2 separate regions of the Homo sapiens genome follow, and region 1 is linked to region 2. A link means that fine-mapping ties the variant in region 2 to the expression of a gene that starts in the linked region. Tissue or cell type: prefrontal cortex. Region 2 holds a variant in brackets; the other region holds the start of a gene. All regions are shown on one strand. Distances are between the middles of the regions.

Region 1 (2,685 bases), 200 kb after region 2:
GAGCGGGCCTTGCAGGACGTCAGTGCGCGTCACCAGCTGGAGAGGCAGAGAAGGAAGGTCCCGCACAACAGCCTGGTGGTGGGTGTGGGCGTCAGGGGAGACCTGGGGCGGCCCCGGGGAGAGGCCCACGCAGAACGTGCAGAAGCCTCCTCGCCGGAGGGACAGCGGGAGGGACAGCGGGGGGACAACAGGGGGGACAGCGGGGGGGGGACAGCGGGGGTGTGACAGCGGGGGGGACAGCGGGGGGGGACAGCAGGGGTGGACAGAGAGGTGGACAGCAAGGGGGACAGCGGGGCGGCCTGGCCGGAGGGCAGAGGGGCAGAGCTGCGGGGGCTGCGACCTGCGTCCTCTTCACCCAGGAGGCGATGGCAGCTGGAGGACGGGTGAGGGCGCCGCAGGCTGATTTAGGCTTTCGGGGTCACTCTGGCTGCTCGGTCGGGAGGCCACGACGGGGAGCAAAGGGGATGGCTGCAGTGTCACGGGGGCTGGTGGCCTGGGCCACATTGGTGGCGATGCAGGAAGTGGGACCGGCTGCTGTGAGGCACAAGGAAAGAGCTGTAGCGGGCAGTTGGGGGCGGGGGAATCTGCAGAGATGGGGGCGGGGGAATCTGCAGAGATGGGGGCGGGGGAATCTGCAGAGATGGGGGGCGGGGGAATCTGCAGAGATGGGGGGTCGGGGGAATCTGCAGAGATGGGGGGCGGGGGAATCTGCAGAGATGGGGGGTCGGGGGAATCTGCAGAGGTGGGGGCGGGGGAATCTGCAGAGATGGGGGCGGGGGAATCTGCAGAGATGGGGGCGGGGGAATCTGCAGAGATGGGGGGCGGGGGAATCTGCAGAGATGGGGGGCGGGGGAATCTGCAGAGATGGGGGGCGGGGGAATCTGCAGAGATGGGGGGTCGGGGGAATCTGCAGAGATGGGGGGCGGGGGAATCTGCAGAGATGGGGGGCGGGGGAATCTGCAGAGATGGGGACTTGCGCGGGAAAAGCAAGGATTTTGCTGTAACTGGAGATGCCGGTGGAGACTGCCCCTGCCCCTGCCCCTGCCCCTTCCTCACCAGCACCTTCCACCCACGTCTCTCACTGCCCATTAACAAGACCCAGAGGCTCTCGTGCTTTCTTGGTCGAAGGTATGAGACCTGAGATCCCATGAAATTTAATGTAAAGTCTCAGGGTTTGATTTTGCAACACGAGGATGCCAAGGTGGATGATTGAGTGGGTGACCCTCGCTTCTGTGAGGTTTGATTTTGATGGTTGCACTTTGGCCAGTTTCTCCGAATTCCACCTGCCCGAGGCCCACGAAGCCAGTGTTCCTGCGAAGCTTCTCTTCCCTGGCCATGCCGAGAGGTTCTCCAGCTGTTAGATGTGTCAAAGAATAATTCTCATTTTAAGCATCTACTTATGTAGTTCAGTGCTCCAAACATTGATATAAGAGAACATTTATTGAGTGCTTCCTGTGTACCAAGTACTTTTGAAACCATTTGGTGTATTTTCTTATTTAATCTTCACAATAGCACCACCTCTCTGGGTTGCTATAAAGACAAAGGGAGATATCAGTGAAGCACCTGGCACTTCAGAAAGTCTCACTACGCTGCAGCTTTTTTTTTTTTTAATCTGGAGCATGAAAAAGATAATATGAACCTTCCTAAGATGGAGTCAAGTCCCACAAGGAAGAATTGGTTGTGGAAGTTTCTGAGTGTTCCACCTCAAGCCTGGTCTCCTGGTCTAGCTGAGGAGCGTGCAGTGCGCGGCCCATGGAGAATATGCAGGCAGAGGCTGATCCCAGCTTCTGTGGGTTCATAGAGACCAGACGGAGGCTGTAAATCATTGGCCTATGACACCCACTTGGTTTTCAAAATGTAGAAGGAGCTGCTCAGCATGACAGGGTGGATAAACTTGCTGTGGATCCAAGACAAGATTTCAGAATGGATTTGGCAAGTTCTGAGCACATACGGAGAAGATGTGTTGCTCACTGGAAACCAGTGGAGTTTATGAGAATAAAAAGCTTCTAATTTCCTTCCAGTCATTAAATCAAGGAAATATGACAGATACTGAATTTCCAAAATCCCCTCTAAAATGCCTAAAATGTCGAGCCCAGGATGCCATTCAAAGGGATTTTCCTTGGTACTTATTACCAAGGGATACCCCTTTGCCAAGTGAACACATTTGTGAAGTATGAATCCAGAAGTTTAAAATAACTGTTCATGGCCGGGCACGGTGGCTCATGCCTATAATCCCAGAACTTTGGGAGGCCGAGGCGGGCGCATTACCTGAGGTCAGGAGTTCGAGACCAGCTTGGCCAACATGGTAAAAACCCTTCTGTACTAAAAATACAAAAATTAGCTGGGCGTGGTGGTGGGCACCTGTCATCCCAGCTACTCTGGGGGCTGAGGCAGGAGAATCACTTGAACCTGGGAGGCGGAGGTCGCAGTGAGCTGAGATTGCATCACTGCACTCCAGCCTGGGCGACAGAGCAAGACTCTGGCTCAAAAAATAAATAAATAAAATAACTGTTCACTACCCTGCAGGGGTCTTTCGAAGTGGAGACAGGTGCTGCAGATCTCACGGCCGCGTCTCAGGAGCTGGTGCCCGGTGCACGTTCAGTGGGGGATGCTCCGCAGTGCAGGCTCGCGCCCGGGTTGACACGCAGACCTCTTGATCATTGCAGGAGCTGAAACGAAATATCA
Region 2 (2,685 bases):
AGGGCGGCAAGGCACCTAGAGTCCAGCAGCTTCCTGTGCTGCCCACTCTGGCAGAGACCCCAGGCAGAGAAGAAGGCGGCAGAGAGGTAGACTAGCTGATGAAATTTCTGATTTTGTAACTCAAGCCTTCTTTCTCATTAATTTTTTTCACTTCTCCCTTTTTATGGAAATAGAACATACATACAGAAAGTACACTTAAAGTATCAGCTTGATGAATTTTCACAGCCTGCACTCAGCCTCATCAGCAGAGCCAGATGAACAACCTGAACACACAGCAGCCCTGAACCCTCTGCGGGCCACTCCCAGGCACCAAGCTCTGGCACCCTCACTTCTGAAGGCAGAGAGTGATGTGCCTGTGTTTTTGCACTTTATACGAATATATTTTGTCTTACATCTTAATTGCATATGTTATTTATCCCCAAGTTCCCTGAGGACAGAACCATGTCCTTCTTGTTCCTTCCTGATCAGTTCCTGGCGGGTGCGGGGTGGCGGCTCTTGGGATGAGTGCACGCTTGGTAGTGAAGGGGTGGCTGCGCCTGGACCAATCCGCTCTCTCTCTCAACCTCCCTGTGCTTGACAGGCTGCGGGCATGGCTGTGGGACACCATCAATGATTACTCTCCCTTTAACCCTTTCAGAATCAGCAACACAAGCAGTGCTTTAAACCCAAAAGGTCCCTTAGCACCAGGTCATAGAGATTTTGCAAAAGCCGTGGGATACGGAGCTGGTACAAGTGGAGTCTCTCTTATTCGAAATGCCTGGTACCAGAAGTGTTTTGAGTGTTTTATTGTTTCGTATTTTGGAATATTTGCGTATACATAATGAGACATCTTGGAGATGCTACCCAAGTTGAAACACAAAATAAATTCATGCTTTATATACACATAGCCTGAGGTAATTTTATACAATATTTTTAATAGTTTGTAAATGTAATGAAATTTTGGTTACATTGTGACTGCAACCTGTCACATGAGGTGATATGGTTTGGCTGTGTCCCCACCCAAATCTCAACTTGAATTGTATCTCCCAGAATTCCCACATGTTGTGGGAGGGACCAAGGGGGAGGTGATTGAATCACGGGGGCCGGTCTTTCCTGTGCTGTTCTCCTAATAGTGAATAAGTCTCATGAGATTTGATGGCTTTATCAGGGGTTTCTGCTTTTGCTTCTTCCTCATTTTCCTCTTGCTGCCACCATGTAAGAAGTGCCTTTTGCCTCCCGCCATGATTCTGAGGCCTCCCCGGCCATGTGGAACTGTAAGTCCAACTAAACCTCTGTTTCTTCCCAGTTTTGGGTATGTTTTTATCAGCAGCATGGAAACAGATTAATACATGAGGTCAGGTGTGGAATGTTTCACTTGTGGCATGAGGTTAGTGCTCTAAACATTGTAGATGTCAGGGCATTTGGGATTCCAGGTTTTTGAATTAGGGAGGGTCAGCCCGTATGGCAAAAAGCCAGGTGCAGCAGCCTCCAGTCTG[C/A]AGGCCTGAATATTGGGCTGCTAATGCAGGAGAAGGCAAGATTGATCTGATGTCAAATATTGAAGCTGAAATGTGTCAGTGCCCATGTGGATCAATGTTTCATGTGAGGACAATGCTGACATTTTTCTAACCAGCTGGATCATTTTAAACCATTGTGCTGAAAAAAAGACAATCAAAGAATTATGATTTTTTTTAAAAATCTCCCTAGCCTGTAAAGTTTAACACTGAAACACAGTCCTTAAGAATATCTTCTTCTAAGTGTGGTGTACAAAGTCCATTTCTGCAGTGGTTTGAGGCTGATGTGCTTCTACAAGATGGTGTTGTGGTCTGGCCTAGCTATGCAGATCCTTTTGTTTCTGTTTCTGGAAATATGTCAGGCATGTTGCCCTGTTGGTGTAATTTCCTTTAATTCATCCTCGGTCACCGTTTTCCAGGGCCTCTGGGCATGGGCGTTGATAACCTACGCCTGGTAACACCAACGTCTGTGAGCCCAGCCTGACAATGATTCTACCACCTGTCGATGGAGCAGGTTTCAGTGTAAACAAGCGTGTGAATAACTGCTGAAATATTGACGCTTTATTGCCTCCACGGAGGCCACAGTTTCCTTTATTTTATGATGGTACTTGAAATAATGTTTGATAAGAACCTGCCCAAAAGTCCTCCTCACATGGAGCATCTTAGAGTTTCAAAAGAAAATTGTTGAGGTTTCTGTTCAAATTCCAGAAGATCCAACTAGAGCCTGGGAGTCATCATCATGCTTCTGGTGGATTTTCTCCTGCTCACATCACAGAGTGTGATTCTGAGACCCCTCTAGCTGTCCCAGTCCCCTATGCCCAAATTAATTCATTCACTTCAGTGCTTCGAAAACTGTCTTTAATTCTCACAAGCCCCAAGTTGATGCATTCTTCTGAAATCCTTGCTTGATGACACTAAGTATCCATTCCCTGCCATTCTCTGTCACCACACGCTTTATATTTTTTCATTGCACATAGTAAAATATGTAATTTTATATTTGCTTTTCATTTTACTTTCCATCTCCTTCACCAATATGGAAGCTCCAGGAAGGGAGAGGCGATGGACTTTCTTCCCCTGTTGTTTTGCTACCATCACGCACACAACGCCTGAATTATAGTCGCTGCTCAATAAACATCTGTTAATGAATAGATGGTAGTGGCACAGGGGCCCGGCGCAGGTGAAAACCTCCCTGTAT

What was found. PIP is the estimated chance that this variant, and not a neighbour inherited with it, causes the effect.
Region 1: KIF25 starts here. The variant in region 2 is fine-mapped to the expression of KIF25 in prefrontal cortex (CommonMind, PIP 0.95).

Annotation. Positions count from the first base shown.
Region 1 is chr6:167,996,566-167,999,250 of GRCh38, forward strand. KIF25 (kinesin family member 25) reads left to right here and starts at 1,106. Exons shown (of 13, transcript NM_030615.4): 1 at 1,106-2,305; 2 at 2,527-2,685. It overlaps KIF25-AS1 (KIF25 antisense RNA 1), which reads right to left and starts at 512. Exons shown (of 4, transcript NR_103750.1): 1 at 341-512; 2 at 1-36.
Region 2 is chr6:167,791,723-167,794,407 of GRCh38, forward strand. All of the region lies in intron 1 of LINC01558 (long intergenic non-protein coding RNA 1558), which reads right to left. Among named protein-coding and RNA genes, the nearest start is that of LINC01558, 3.8 kb to the right of the region's middle. The variant C/A (reference allele first, on the strand shown) is at 1,476.